2 linked regions of the Homo sapiens genome follow. The protein of the gene in region 2 binds, or shares a complex with, the protein of the main gene of each other region. Each region holds a gene or a part of one and is shown on either strand. Other genes may lie near its edges. The genes, in order: SH3BP2 and TNKS2.

Region 1 (8,327 bases), on a different chromosome or scaffold from region 2:
CAGAGCCTGGGGAGAAGAGAGAAGGTTGGGGGAGGGCACCTTTCTCCCCTCCTGGGAGCCTGCACCACCTCGAACTCCTGTCTGACCCAGGTCTCCACCCGCCCCGAACCTGGGCACGTGCTTCTCTCGCGTCACCCTTGAAGGATGAGTGTAGTCAGGGGCCCGGCACGGAACCCAAATCCAGCAGCGTGGTCCAGAGCCAGGGACTTCTGTCATCCCGTTTTGCAGATCAGGAAACTGAGGGTCAGGAAGTGCAATTCGCCTACAAGGCTCAGGTCTCCTGGCCCGTGGCTGAGGGCCAGTCCCTTGCTCTTGGCACCATCCTGTCTACCCTCCCGTGCACAGGCCAAGGGGTGGTGAGGAGGGTCCAGTGCCCCAGGGAAGGGGGCCAGCCAGTGAGCCTGAAATGCTCCCTACCACCCCCTCTGGGACTTAGGCAGCCCACACGTGGGACTGTCTCCAGCCCCTCGGTGTCCAGACAGGGCCACCAGAAGAATGCAGAGGCCTTCTGGGGAGGAGCCGCCTATCCTGGAGGAAGGATTCCAGGGTCTGCACGGCCCCTTCTCCTTGCCTCCCAGGCCCCTCCATACCCTCACCACACCTGGCATGCAAAGGCCACTCCCGTCAAACTGGTCTCCCACCCTCCCTACCGCCCGCCTTTGGCTTAGTCTGTCTGTACCTGCATGGCTGCCCGCCCGGCTCAGATCCCTCCTCCTGACGGCCCACCCTGTATTCATTGGCCCGAGGGGTGGGAGCCGCTCCACTGCGTCTGGGGTAGGACAGCTCTCACCTTGTGGCAAATTCCCCGTCTTTTCCCCGCCAGCCTGCCCTTCTCCTCACCCACCCAGGCTGCACAGTGATGGCCAAGCCACCCGGTTATTAAAGAACTATATACTCTGCCAGGCGTGGGGGCTCACGCCTGTAATCCCAGCACTTTGGGAGGTGGGCAGATCATGAGGTCAAGAGAGGACAGAGAGTGAGGAGGGCAGAGCCTGCCACACATAGTCACTGACCTGGGGTGTCCCCACAAGGGAGCTTTTGAGGACAGAACGCAGGAAGACCCAGGGGCTGCCCAACACTGGCCACTCCTGATGGACTCAGGCCTTAGTCCAATGTGGGCAGGAACCTGGGAGCCTTGGCCTTTACCCAGGCCTCTCCAGGCCAGTCCCTGCCCCCACCCAAAACAGGACATACAGCGGCCCTGAGGACCAGGGAGAGCACCCTCAGCGACCCACTGTCACTGAATACCAAGCACATGTCACCACCACCACCATCCCCCCTACGGACACTCATAGCCACCCACCAGGTACAAAGTGCTTCACAGCCCTCAGGTCATGGATGAGAAAACGGAGGGGTGGCAGGGGGAAGCCTCCTGGCCATGATCACACAGCTGGAAACTGGTGGCATCTGAGTTCACACCCAAGATCCTGGCTGAGTTTGCGCCCTTCCTCCCTGCCCCTCAGGAACCAAGGCTGGCCATCTCGTCTCTCTGGGCCCCTGGACTTCCCGTCTGTGGGCCTGCTTGTGTGCGTGCATCCCTGGGGGGTGGGGAGCTCCAGCTGACTCAGCACCCTGCTTCCTCTGTCCATGTGGGCAGAAAGGGCCAAGGCAGGCCCAGAGCCTGTCCTCCCTCTGTCTGCCTCTTCAGGCCAGCCTCCTTGGTGGGCTCCCCCATGATCCTGGAGGCCTGGGGACTCCCTGAAAGGCCAGGTCCCCTGTCAGCACCCCTCTCACCAGATGGCCCTGGCTGGCAGTTCCTAGACACGGCTGCCTATCTGTCTTCCTTCTGCCTGCCCCCTCCAGGGTGTGCCTAACGCAGGGCACAGAGCCAGGCAAAGGGAGCCTGGCGGGTGGCAGGGAGAGGGGATAGACAGAATCCTCACTCCCTTGCAGCCCTCGTCCCAGGCCTCCTGTCCTGCCAGGAGTGGAGTGCCTGGAGTGGGGCCCTGAGGTTGGGCTCCAAGAGGGCCCTTCGACGGTGTCTACGTAGAGGAGACAGTGGACAGAGTGGGAAGAACCAGGAGGGGGTGGAGCCCAGCCCCTCCTCTGGTCCCACAGGGCCTGAGCCAGTGAGGGCAGGAGCTTGTCCAGGCTCATGGAGTTGGTGCAGGGCTGACCTGAACCCAGAGGCTTGCTTCGGCAAGGAGGAGGCTGTGGGCCCTGCCTTCAGGCGGTTGTGGAAACAATTCTACACATTGCATCACCGGCCCATGTCACCTGCAAGGCCACACACATGTCATCCAGGCAGGCTGTCCACCCCAGCAGCCCACACGGAGTACCCGCCCCTGGCCACAGCCAATTCGAAGGACTTAAGTGTGGCCACTAGACCAGGAGGCACAGCTGTCCCCAGTGTCAACAGATGAGCAAACTGAGGCACAGAGAGGGGATAGGAGGTGCTCACGGAAAGGAGCACCAGCAGAAGGCTCCCCACAGCAGGGCTCAGGCCCTCAATACCCCCAGGGAGCCGAGGCCCAGAGCAGCGGGAAAGTGCTGGGCTGCAGGGAGGCCAGCGTACAGGTGGAAGGGGCTGTCCCCGCCCCCTAACTCCTCCAGTCCCTCTGCCACCCCTGAGATTCCCTGTTGCCCATGAGAGTCTCAGACGCCCGGCTATCAGTCACTCACACTTCAGTGTGAATCAGCGCCAGTGGGCGGCTTTTCTTGCCCTCCGTGAAGCGCGGCCGCTGCAGAGGGAAGTTTGGATTCCGGGAAGGGCGGAGAGCGAGTGCCCGCCGCAGCCTTTGAGTCTTGTGGGGAGGGTCGCGTAAAGGGGCCCCGCCGCGGGGCCAGAGGGGCGCGAGGGGTGCGAAACAGACGCGTCGCACCGCCTCCCACCCCTGAGCCCCCGGCAAGGGACACCCGGCCCCCGCCCCGAAGCCGCGCTCCCTCGGGCACTGCCCGCCGTGCCCAGGCCCCGTGCGTCCTTTGGCAAGGACACGGAGGCCCCGGGGCCCGGGGGAGGCTGCTGCGCACCCGAGACCCCCGACACCCGCCCATACCTGCCGGGACCCTGAGACTCCCCCGAGACCTGCCAAGACCTGCCGGGACCCCTGAGACTCCCCGGAGACTCCCCCGAGACCCCCGAGACCCGCCGAGACCTGTCGGGACCCCGAGACTCCCCCGAGACCCCCGAGACCCGCCGAGAGCCCCCAGACCGCCAAGGCCCGCCGAGCCCCTTCCAGACGCGGAGACCGCCCCCCCGCGAGACCCCCGAGACCCGCCGAGACCCGCCGCCGAGGCTTACCCGCCGAGCGCTCTCCTGGCCCGCGGGCCCTGGGTCGAGGCGGCGGCTTGACTCGGCCGCCAGGCGCTCCCGCCCGCGGGACCCGCCGCCGCCGCAGCTCCGTCCCGCCCGCGCCCGCCCAGTCCGCCCTCCTCCTGGCCCCGCCCCGGCCCCGCCCCTCCCCGGCGGGTCCCGCAATCCTGGAGGTCCGAGCTGGGCGTGGGGCGGGGCCGGTACCTCAGGGTGGGCGGGGAACTGCACGTGGCCTCCGCGGCCCCGGGACGAGGCCCCTGGGGGGCGAAGACTGGCGTTGTCGCGGGCCTAGACGCCGGGTCCACAGTAGGTGCTTAGTTCTCGCCCGTGAGTGAGGTAGCGTGTCTGTCCCTCCTGCGTGTCCCTCCCAGTGACACCCCAGTGCCCAGCGACCCAGGTGGAAAGGGCGCTGTCCACCCCCCCAGCCCCGTGGTCCTGATCCTGGGCGGCCCCACCCCTGCCCCGTGAGTGCGACTTAGGCCCTGGCCAAGACAGGAGCAGGGGAGGTGGGGGAGGGCTTGCTGGGCACCAGGAAACCTTGTCTTTGTTTCCAAATGTCCTCCAGGGTACTTTTCAGGCACTTCCCAGGGGGACCTCGCCTCTTGGACCAGGTCTGGACTCCGGTGGCCCAGAGGTCGTCTTGGGGCTGGGAGGCACAGGAGACCGGGTGCTTTACACTTGGCCTCCTCTGAGGCTCCCTTTCCTCCACCATCACCCTCTCCCTAAGAGTAGGCCCAGATGCCTTGGTGTAAGGGCAGGGGCGAGAAGAGGAGGGGCTTCCTGGGAGGAAATGGCTTCCCTGGGGAGCTCTCAGGGCCAGGTAGGTGGAGGGAGCCGTGGAGAAAGTGAAGAGGCTGGGGAGACCAAGCTGGGCCTGCAGAGCTTGAGGGCGAGCGGACCCCCCACCAGTGCGGGAGTCAACTGCTTGGGGCGTGGGGGGACTCCTCCCCATGAGGAGTGGGGACTGGACCCCAGGTCCCAGAGCCCAGGAAGCTGTGAGTAGAGGAAGGACAGGATCTTGCTGGGAACCCAAGGGAGCTGGGGGTGGGTGGTGGTGACCTGGCCCTGTCCAGGCAGGCGGCCAAGGTCTGACCCTCTGTACTGAGCACAAGAGGCCAGAGTCCAATGACAGGGGCTGAATTGGCTGCTCCAAATCAGGCAGGGGCAGGGGTGTCCAGGGCTGGCCCTGCAGCAGGTGAAGGACTGGGTTTGGGTCCTACAGGTTGAAATACCTGAGGGCCTCCAGGAGACACAGCCAAACCAAGCGGGTTCTCAGGGTTGCAGCTGGACCGAGTGTGGGCCAAGTCACCGTCCACCTGTCCCAGAGCTGCCCAATAATGGGTCCCAAGCCTCAGAAAGGGGATCCCTGGCTGCAATAGCCCTCCTCCCTGCTGGAGAGACACACTTGGGATCAGAGAGGTTAACTGGGGAGGGGAGTAAGTGGGAGGAGTCAGAAAACTAGGTGGCCAGGCCCTGAGCCCAGGCATAGAGGAAGAGCCAGTGCCTACCAGGAAGTGACCAGGACCAAGGCAGGGCCTCTGGAAGGGAAGGGACAAAGCAGGGGATGGCAGAGGCAGGGGAGGATATGGGAGAGTCTTCAGACAACAGGGCCCCTTTTCCCCATCTGTGAAATGGAGGGGGTCCTCTACTGGGGAGGCGGCAGAAGTGGATGGGGCATGACAGCAGGCAGATACTCACTCTACCTGGCCCAGGGCCACCCCTCACACCGGCGCTGGGGCTGTGACTCTACCCACCTACAGCCTAGCTCTCGGGGCTGAACTTAGACCCCAGTGAGGGAGTAGATGGGTGCTGGCTGGCTGGGGTGCTCACTCTCTGGGGTGCCTGCTCACATCCCCACCTGTAAGTGTCCTGGGCCTGGCTCCCCAGGTCTCAACTCTGCTCATCCCAGCATTGGGTAGCCTGCAACTCTTCTGCCCACCCCCCACTCTGGGCTATTTCACATTTTCCTAGCAGGGAGGAAGAGATAGGAACTACAGCCATTGTGGAAGTGGCTGGGCTCAGCCCCATCCGACGTTCAGTGCTGCCACTGTTAGCACCGCATGGGGCTGCGTCACTCCTGTAAGAGGCCACATGCGGAGGGAGCTCCAGGCTGGGCCAGACTGGTCTAAGGCTCCTGACAAAACACTCATGACCTTGGGGCTGTACATCTTGATGTCCCTGATGTCCAGTTCAGCTAAATAAATGCCTGGCCCCACACCAGACCCCGGGGACCCAAGATGATACAAGGAAGTCCCTACCCTTGTGGCTCACGAGAGGAGCAAATGGACAAATGAGCAGATGCCATTGGGTCACAGCAAGTGTCCTGTTCCCAGGGGACCAGCTGGGGAAAGGGGCAGAGACCGGGAGGGGAGTGGAGCAAAGCCAAACGTCGGTGCGGCCCCGCCAGGGCCTGACTACAGGGCAGGGTGTACAGGGCTGGCCTCAGATGCCAAGCTCAGAGTTGACGGAGCAGGGTCACTGCAGACAGTGTGGACGGACCAGGCGCCTAGAGAATGATCACCCAGAAATGCAAAGCACCTCTGTGCAGGGCACCTCAGCCAAACAGGGGGAACAGGGTGCAGCCTCCACCGTGGGGAGAATCCCACACCTCATATTCCTCCCCTTCTCCCCCCTTACCAGTCCAACCCCAGGGCGTGGGAGGAAGGAACTCCTAGTTGGGGCCTCAGGGCAGCTCCCAGCAGCCCCTCCGAGCAAGAAGCTGCTGGAGGCTGTGGCCAGAGCCTCTGGGCACCCAGGGGTTCCGCTGAGGCTGACAGAGCAGGGATGGGTGAGGAGGATGACCTCGCCTGCTGGGAGGGTATGCAGGGCAGGTGAGCAGAGGTAAGGCGAGGACCCCTGGCCGGCAGGGAGCTGGGGAGCAGACCTCCACAGGGCACATCCGGGGTAGAAGCCCATGGTGATGCCCCAATCACACCCACAGAATAAGGCCAAAGAGAAGGGGGCCGGTCCCCCGCCACACCCATCCCCCGTGTGCCATCGGCCATGCCACTGATTTGGCAGGACCCAGAACAGGCAGAGGCAGCTGCTGTCTGGGGGGTAGGGCAGGACCTGCTGAGGGTGAGGCTGACGGTTAGGATGGCGAGGGCAAGATCTGCCGCTGGTCTACGTGTCACAGGCGTCCCAGCAGGGGGCTTCATGCGCCTGCCAAGTCTCTTTTTCCTTCCCTGGGCCAGCAACCCTGGAGTCGTCCGCACTGATGCCTCTCTGCTCGCCCCACATCCCGTCCGCCCTGAAGGTTCTGTTGGCAAAGCACACCTGGAATCCTGCCTTTCTCAGCCCCTGCCTGCCTCATCCTCCCTCTCCTGCGCTTGCCTGGCAGTGTCCATCATCACACCAGAGGGGTGCAGTCACAGTGTGAGTCAGGTCATGTCACTTCTTCACTCAGAACTTTCTGTAGATCCCACCTCCCCCAAGGCAAATGCCTTCTATCCTTGCATGGGCAGGGCCCAGACCGAGCCTGTGCCACCTGCCTGCTCCCTGAGTTCTCTCTCCATAGCCCCGCTTAGCATTGGCCACACTGGCCTCCTGTCTCCTCCAGCACCGCAGACACATTCCCACCTCAGGGCCTTTGCACTTGCCATTCCTGCCCCTAGATCACCCTTGGCGGGTGTGCCTGGACCCCTCGCTTCCCTTGGTCTGGGCTCTGCTTCCAGGGCACCTGAGTTACAAAATAGACTCCCAGTGCATGATTGGTGAATGAACAGACAAAGGCCTCAAGGGGCAGCCCCAAGGAAGGGGCTAGGTAGGTTTTGTTTTTGTTCTTTTGTTTTGAGATAGGGTCTCACTCTGTTGCCCAGGCTGGAGTGCAGTGGCACTGCAGCCTCAACCTCCTGGGCTCAGGTGAGCCTCCCACCTCAGCTGGGACTATAGGCATGTGCCACCACACCCAACTAATTTTTATTTATTTATATTTTTTATTTTTTTGTAGAAATAGCGTCTCACCATGTTGCCCAGACTGGTCTCGAACTACTGGGCTCAAACGATCCACCCACCTCAGCTCCCAAAGTGCTGGGATTACTGGCATGAGCCACTGTGCCCATCCTAGCCAGGTTTTGGAGCTGCCACCTGGGTCCCGTGTCCAGAGGACCTTGGAAGCATGGACCCTGCCCTCCCACCTGTCCCTGTCCCCAGGAGTGGCCCCACAGTGATACAGTGTACCACCTCACCAGGCCGCCTCGCTAGGAGAGGCAATTCCTGAGTAGGGCCAAGGCCACAGGCTTCCCACCTGCTTCCCTGGGGATAGGAGGGGACAGGTTCCCACCCTACCTCCCCCAATCCCCACTCCCTGGGGGAGGCTGTGTGGAGTCATCCTGCCACACAGTCCAGTCCCCTGGCCACACAGCCCAGCACTGGAGGGAGGGGCAGAGGGGGTGTGGGGGAGGATTGTGGCTCATGGGAAGAGGAGTTTGAGGAGGCAGGCTGGGCCTCACACGCAGGCATCAGTCTGGCTCTGAGGACAGGGCTGGGGGCTGGCATCTCTCCCAGGAGGCTGGGCTGGTGGCAGGCACTCTGGCAGGGAGGGCAGGCTGGACAGGAGTGGCCCCTCCCAGGCTCTGGGCCATCTCTGCATCCCAGGCCAGGCCTGGCTGCCTCACGCCTTGCCCTGGGTGGGATGGGGAATATTTTCTCCTTTACCGAATGAAGGGGAAAGGAGCAGCCTGGGGCTGGAGGGGGAGCAGTGGAGGTTGGGTGGGATGGTAGGACGTGTGTGCTGGTTGAGGGGTGGAAGCATGGAGGCCCGCTCAGGTCTCAGCCAGACCCCACGCCAGAGTGCCCTGCACACTGGCCTCCCCTCTGCCTCCACTGCCCTCCAGCGTCATCCCGGGAAAGCCAGCTCAGTAGCATTACCCCAGGGGACCTCCCCAGACCCCCACAGTCATGCCCAGATGTGCACCTACATCCCACCACACTGCCCAGAACTAGCCTTCCTCACCACCCCATCCCACCCCCTAGGCTGGGGCGCCTTGAGGTCAGGGCTCTTCCAGTGGCTCTGGTCCCCAGGATGGTCCAACACGGGGCCCTGCTCAGAAAACATCCTCAGTGGGTGGCCCCA
Region 2 (7,862 bases):
ACTCCCCCTCCCCCCAAAACCCCAACTTCCCAACAAACAAAAAGCTATCTGAAAATGCTGCCATGCTAACATATGAACCACGGTATATTCATTCATGGAAAAACACACTCATTAAGCAATGGATTAGATAAAATAACACAGTTTGCAGTATTGTAAACTCATAGACCACAATGATTTCACATGAAAAGCAATTCCAGATTCACTCATAGGGTGAGTAATATGGGCTACATAGTTGAGAGATAATGTAAATATAAACCCCATTAATTCTCTCATTATCTTCTAATTATAAAACCTGGAAGCTTAGATAATCTGAAAAATTCATATAAAATTTGGCATACTCCACTTGTGTTCCAAGAAATGACTTTCGGATATTTGTAATTATTAGAGAGCTGTATAAAAAGCACTTCAAGATCAGGATTTGACTTCTTAAATAATGATCATAATTTACATCACAGAAACAACTCCAGAAATGCATTTACTCTGATTAACTCTTACTCAGGACAAGGAACATGATTTTCTAGCACTTTATGTACAAGTTACTGCAAAGGGCCAGTTAATTTACAGACTGAATAAAACGTAAAATAAAGGTGAACTGGTACAGACAGTGATGGGGAATGTCCTCATTAAGTGAGTAAAGATCTTTCCTCGACTTTGAAGGGAGCTAGAGTCAACAAATAAAAGAGATTGCCAAGCCATAATGGATGTATGTCTCTGTAACAAGATGCTTAAGCATGCTTCCTGGAAAAGAGTTTTATATTAGAAAATAGGAATGGCATTTTATGGGACAGCATTTCCTTCTATAGCTGCCAAACTGAGCACAGGCGTGGTCACCATATGGTGCACAAACTGACAGCATATTTCCAATTGGGCATAACATCATGGAGAGAAAACCCAGGAGCAAGAAGCACCTGTTTCACTGCACTTGCCCATTCAGGAGGCCTGGAGGGGACTGAGACAACTACATTTTATAGTTCTGGGTTAAGTTTACCCATGATGTATAGATTGGCTATAAATACAGCAATAAAACCAAGTAAAAAGAACAGGAAAAAATATACTTAGGATAAAAAACTACCCAGTCCTGTTTGTGATTTTTTTTTTCCCCTTTAGATTTAAGGTAATTAGAATAGATTGGGAAATGATTTAGGATTACCCTTCCCACCCTGGAAATGTAACATCCTACTTATGTTCCATGAAAAGAACACAATAATTGTTCAACAGCAAGATTTAGTTTCTCTAAAAAACAGGAGCACTTTGCTCTAATTTTCACAGAAGGACTGCAGAAAATTTTCCAACATGAAAGCTAGAAATTGAGGCCAGTAAAGAAGCTTCTTTAGTAATCAGGACCTATCATAGTTAGAGCTCTTTGGAATGTGTCTCATACATACAAAGGTATCACAAATTAAATCTTCAGCATATTCATAAGTTCTTAAATGAGAAAGATTTCTAATGACAGATAAAGGCTCCCATCGGCAAATTAAATCTGATAACTCAATCTTTCCCAACTAACAACTGAACATAGCCTCTGGAATCAAATGTAAAGATCACTCAATCATGACGATGTAAGATGAAGTATAGATGAACAATACATATGAAAAAATTTTGTAAACCGCTGCAGTTCTAAAACAGATTTATATTACAAAGCAATGTAAATAAATACTGGGCTAGTACAAAAGCTCTTATTTACAGTTTTACAAATGAAATTGTATTCAGTGTAAATGCTGTGTTTTAAAGAACACAGTATTGTATTAGTAAAATTAGTTCTGTTGAGGGCATTACAGTTTGTTAGAATCAATGCATAACATATAAAAGGTTCAAGTTAACTCTGTTTATAATTTAGTACAGACAACCCAGTTTAACCTGGAATGGCATCTGTTAAAGTGCTGAAAAAACAGGAAATATTTAGAAAACACTGTACATTATTAAAGCTTTATCAAGTCAGAATGTTAAACTTCGTTCACATTTTTATCCTTTTGCCACAGGCCTGTGGGCAAGATGATTTTTTTTCAGCAAAGGAGTAAAACGTAGAGGCCACTGCTGCTTTGATGATTTTAGGTTCAGTGGAATTAGTTTCTTAAAATAACTATTTATCCATCGACCATACCTTCAGGCCTCATAATCTGGTAAGTAATTAAATACTCAGGATAAGCCTGGAAGAGAAAGATAAATTCAAATAATGGTACAAAAATTTTCTTGAAAGATAAACAGACTTTCCGGAAGTATTCCTAATCTTAGGGAGGAGGTTCTAAATTACTGTTGTAGATCAGAATCATCTAGGGACATTTTCTCAAAACATCTTTACCCTGAGTACAGTTCTTCAGATTTTCAATCAGCAAGTCTAAGATGAATACTAAGTTCATAAGTATCAGATAAGACTAAAATCATGTCTGATTTTAGTAACTGCGGTGATTCCGATACCTACTCCCAGTTCACAACACTGCTCTAGAACTACTTTTGGCTCTCACTGAGAGCAAAACACAGTTATATACTTCTTTGCTATGGACAGGCTGTTAAATACAAGATTTCAATTATTTATAAGAGCTAAGAAAAATCCGGAACGACTGGCGAAATTTGAATAAAATCTTCTTGTTTTTAGGAAATTTACAATTGAAATAGTTAATGGTAAAGGGACATGCCCTGCAACTTACTCTCAAACAGTTCACAAAAAAATAGGTACACACACAAGGAAAGAAGGAGAGAATGGTAAGAGTAAAAAAGAGAACAAAATATTAACATTTAGGAAATCTAGGTAAAGGTTATAAGAAAATTCTCTTTACTATTTTTGTAACTTTCCAAATCTGAAATTATCTCCAAATAAAATTTTTAAAAAATCCAGTTAAGGCAATATGTCTTGTCAATTCAAGAGATTAATAAAAAGTTAAAGTATGCCTCCCTAGCATTTTTGAAGATGAACAAATAAAACTACATTACCTGTTCTCCTCTGTAAATAACATATTCAGCTAATGCTAGGCCATTTACACTGGGCCTACCAGTGACTGAGTGATGACCTGGAGGAGAATGTGCCATTTTCATTGCACTGAACTGCAGGAAAGACTTTCCCAAGGTTACCCGGCAAAAGAGCAGCTGCCTATAAAACGAAAAGGAAAAGATCACCCTGAAGTCAAATTTGATACATAAATATGACAATGTGTGGACACGGCATAAGTTTTAAAAAATTATTTATACATAAATACTTATAATTGTTTTTATCATTTCACCCCTAAAAGAACTTTTTAAGAATGTCTTCTATTACTCTTATTAATGAAATAATTTGTCAATTTAGTTAGTCCTTATTTTAACTATAAAATCTGAAAAATGTAATAACCTTATAGAGATACAGACTCTACCACCTTGTTTGTATCTCAGCAAAAAACAAAAGTCACTGGCCAAGTGGGAAGGAGAAGGTTTAGTGGACTTCCATTAAGTGGCTTGCAAAGTTGGACACATATCTAATTAACTCCAGTTGATTTTACCTTCAAAATATATTTGAAATCCATTTACTTTTCTTAATTCTACTGTCACTATTAAGTCAAATCACTGAAATATTCACCTGGACTATCACACAATGGCTTTCTAAACCAGTCTTCCTGTTTCTTCTGTAATTCCTGTCCAAACCTTTCCCATCCAACTAATTAAAACAAACAAAAATTAGATCAAGTCACTTTTCTGCTTAAAACCTTTTAGAGGCTGTCACTGTACTTGGGAGAAAATCCAAATTCTGTACAATGGCTCCAATTTCTTGAATCTCATTTTATGTTCATTATGCCCCATGCACATTAGTTTTCTTTTCTTCACAAAGGCCAAACTTGCTTTATTAATGGTCCCCATCCACAGAATTTTCTCCACCATTGGAATGTTATCTATTTTACCACTCTTCCACTGGCTGATACCCACTCAATTTTCAGACTTCAGCTGAAATGTTACTTCCTTAGATAGGAAGTAAACTGGTAGTCTCCCCTCACCACCAGTTTCAGTAGATTACCCTCTCACTCCTCTCAGGCATGTGACTAGCCTTTCTTAGTTTCAAACAACCTTTTAGTATTAACGTCATTGTTTCTTTTTAGAAGATAACAGGAGATTTCTGTAGACCAGTTGATGGTTCTATCTTCCAAAGAAGAGGGAGGTATTAGAATGCTGCTTATTACTAATAATCAGAACTATTTAGCCTTCAGACCATATATGACAAATAAAAACAGCAGTGTTCAATTTACAGGAAATTACATGCCTCCTAACCACTCCAATTTATGATCTAAAATAGAAGTGAGTGGGACGTCATACATAGGAGGGCCTACTGTGTACTACCTATGCAGGCCTAAATTTAGAGGGGTAACAGTAAGAACAAAACAAACACAAAGAAAGAACCTGTTTCCCTCCATGACTGCAATTCTTCAGCTCGGAAGCCCTTTGAAATCAACTGGGAAGCTTTTAAAAATTCTAATATCCAGATCATGCCCCAGACCAATTAAAAGAGATTCTGTGAGGGTGGGACACAGGCATTAATAGTTTTTTAATATTCCCTGGGTGATTCCAATGTGCTGCCAAAGTGCAAAGTACTGCTCTAGGGGTTTTTTTCTAGATCAGTGGTCAGAAATACAGTGTCACATCTGGGAACTTGGTAGAAACTCAAATTCTAGAGTCTCATCCCAGATCTACTAAATCAGCAACTGAGAAGGTGGAGCCTAAGAATCTGTGATTTAAACAAGCCATCTAGGTGACTCTAATGCATGCTAATGCTTGATAAACTACTGCTCTGTATATTCAATAAGCAGTGCCCTAACTGTCGAATAAATCTCAGGAATTAATCTTACTGGATTTTTCAAGTGGCATTACTTTTTGCCTATAAGGATTTTATAAGTTAGGGACAAGTTACTTAAATGATTTTTAACAAGTGAGTTAGAACAGGTAATTAAAAGTGGAAAAAAAAAGTGCAAAGTAGTTATTTGATTATTATTTCCTTTCAAAAAGGATCAATGTTTTAATTTCAAGTTCTTATAGTAATATTGCAAATTGAGGATTAGGATCGTATCACAGTGGAAGAGAGGCTCAGGCACTGCCATCAAATAATTAGATTTGACAAATAATGCCATTTTAGCATTTGAATACTAGATTTTTAGAGTCCACAGAGTCCTACAATACTCAAGGGCTACAATAAAGCCTCTTTCATGCCTAATGTTACTTTCTACTCAGTATGCTTTAAGGCACCAGATATTCTAATGATTAAATTAGCCAAACAGGTCAAGTGCTTAAATTATAATTGGCCCATACGGATCATTTAATAAATATTAGCTATTATTACAATTGGTGAGAGGGCCAAAAGCAATCTAAAACATGCCTAGCTTGCATTCCTAAGACTGTCCAACATAATGCTTTGCCCTCAAAAATGCAACTAGTTCTTATCTGATTACCACCAAAATAAATGAGAACAAGTGATCTCTTACCTGTGGCAAATGTAACAAGATCTGTCTTTGTGAACTGGACACCCAGTACCTCCTCCAATTCCATATACATATTGATTGCTTTTGGAAGAGTTTTCAGCAAAATAAATGCCAGCTCCAAACATACCACCTATGTACGCATGCCTTTCATCAAAGCCTTTGTGGATAATTGCATTCACAAAAGGAGACCCTGAAACACATATAGATGGGTAACAATAATTTAAAATTTATCTTAGAATAAAAAGTAAAAAACTAGTTTCTTAGAAACTGAATTCTTAAATATATAGCCCAACCATAATAAAGCCAAAACGAAAAAGGGTAACAAGTTAACTGTCAGCCAGCTATTTTAGAATAAAGAACTGCTAACATCAACTAATGTTTCTAACAGAGTGCTGGTTTATGTGCTAAAATAAGGACACAGATTGAACTAGAAAAACAGAGTACTTGAAATATCAGTGTAAGAGTTACCAAATGCCAGACTGCAAATCCATAAAAATCTAAAACCAAGAGGCTCATAATTCACTTTAGATAGCAAAGCTAAATGCAATTAGGTCTTAGAATGATGCCTATGCCTGTGTGCTTTTTTGAAGATACCAAGTGGCCCAAGTAGACTTTCACATTCTTTTTTTTTTTAAATTTTTTTGAGATGTAGTCTCGCTCTGTGGCCCAGGCTGGAGTGCAGTGGCATGATCTTGGCTCACTGCAACCTCTGCCTCCCGGGTTCAAGCAATTCTCCTGTCTCAGCCTCCTGAGTAGCTGGGACTATAGGTGCACACCACCATGCCTGGCTAACTTTTGTATTTTTAGTAGAGACAGGGTTTCAACATATTGGTCAGGCTGGTCTCAAACTCCTGACCTCAGGTGATCCACTCACCTTGGCCTCCCAAAGTGTTGGGATTACAGGCGTGAGCCACCGCACCCGGCCCAACTTTCACATTCTTATTCTCTTTCTTATACCTCTTCTCTTCTATCCTTCCACTTCTGCCTTTCATTAATTACGATACAAGATTCTATCTGCAAATGTGGTGCTTTCCCTCACCCCCTGCACATTGACTTCTCTCTCCTCTTTCCTTGGGAGTGGAGTAGAGTGGGGGATGGAAAAAGTCAAAAAACCACAGCTAATTCATTTATCAAGATCACATTCCCTTTCCACAGACAGACAGGAAAATATACTGAATTCTACTTTACAGAAATACAGATGAATAGAATCATTTTTTGAATTAACTTGGGAAAACCAAAATTATTTATATTACAAATTAGAAAAACCATATTATAACCATCAATTAACAGATAAATAAATATGCTCTGTGTCAAGAGATTATCATGATAATTATTTAGGGTTTTGGAATAAGGAGTGCAACATGTTTAGATTCTGCACATGAATCCATTCTGTTACAGCCATTCTCCCAGGGTATTATGAAATTTACTGTGTTTTAGAGAACTTTACAGGTCTCTAAAATTTTTCTGCAATCAAGGACAAATGAAGAAACAGACTGGAACTACTATGGGTAATGTACTTGAAGCCCTCATAAATACTACATTAATATGTTTAACTTTGCTAAAATTTGAAAGACTAATCAACACCTGCCAGCTTATAATACAAAAAAAGTAGAAAATTCCAAGAAGAATAAGTAATTGTGCTTTCAATTCAATTCTATGGTTTCAATTCTACAGTCATCAGAAACCTCTACAGGTTCAATAACAATGGCTCTTTTCAAATTGTGTGGGTTTGATACTTAGAATCAAAATCAGAATAGGATGTACACCTTCTTCTGAGGTGATTCCCAGGTCTTATTTTTAATTCAATCAACTAGTTAAATGGAAAACACAAAATTTCCTAGAGTGACCATAAGCAAAATTTACTATTTAAAGAAAAAAGGAAAAGATAGTCAACACTCTCATTTCTATTTTTATTGTGGTAATCTTATTTAAAAACAATCCATTATAAAATACACAAATTCAAAAGAAGTTGAAAATATAAATGTGAAAGTTACAGAAATAGTAGGTTTATCTTAAAATACTGACATAAAGAATATACAGGCTTATTATTATTTCATATCTGAACAAAAAAACTATCCTAATGTGGAAGACAGTGGTAGAGTTGGTGGGGAGGAATCTTACCATGAAATAGCATTCGTTCATTGGCATGGTTGTGGTTTTCTTCAGAAACTTCTTTTCTCCGGTGAGTGTATCTTTCCCATAGTTTCTTGTTACAAACCTTCTGAATCTATAAAAAATAAACCAGAAAAATCAAATCTTTAGGAATTACTTACTGACTTCTTCATCTAAACCAAACATGGGACATACATTTAGCTAGAAGGTAGGCAAAACTGTACTCTGAAATATAAAATGTGTTATTTTAATCAACTAAAAATACTTTGTCCCAACCATAAAATTGGAAGTATAGCTACATTTTGGAGATTAAAAAAA

The links.
Region 1: the proteins of TNKS2 (region 2) and SH3BP2 are in contact, whole or in part, in a crystal structure (PDB 3TWR), measured with the Homo sapiens proteins. Residues at the interface, in NP_079511.1 of Homo sapiens: Arg525, Ser527, His531, Phe532, Gly535, Tyr536, Asn537, Arg538, Leu560, Asn565, Ser568, Tyr569, His571, Asp589, Trp591, Phe593, Glu598, Lys604; in NP_001116153.1 of Homo sapiens: Leu413, Gln414, Arg415, Ser416, Pro417, Pro418, Asp419, Gly420, Gln421, Ser422, Arg424.

Annotation. Positions count from the first base shown.
Region 1 is NC_000004.12:2,788,053-2,796,379, reverse strand, and holds the start of SH3BP2 (SH3 domain-binding protein 2), read right to left. Parts: upstream 3,296-8,327; 5' UTR 3,242-3,295; intron 1-3,241. UniProt on the Homo sapiens protein: Binds differentially to the SH3 domains of certain proteins of signal transduction pathways. Binds to phosphatidylinositols; linking the hemopoietic tyrosine kinase fes to the cytoplasmic membrane in a phosphorylation dependent mechanism.
Region 2 is NC_000010.11:91,857,222-91,865,083, reverse strand, and holds part of TNKS2 (poly [ADP-ribose] polymerase tankyrase-2), read right to left. Parts: intron 7,660-7,862; coding exon 7,554-7,659; intron 5,623-7,553; coding exon 5,436-5,622; intron 3,086-5,435; coding exon 2,929-3,085; intron 2,148-2,928; coding exon 2,085-2,147; 3' UTR 1-2,084. UniProt on the Homo sapiens protein: Poly-ADP-ribosyltransferase involved in various processes such as Wnt signaling pathway, telomere length and vesicle trafficking.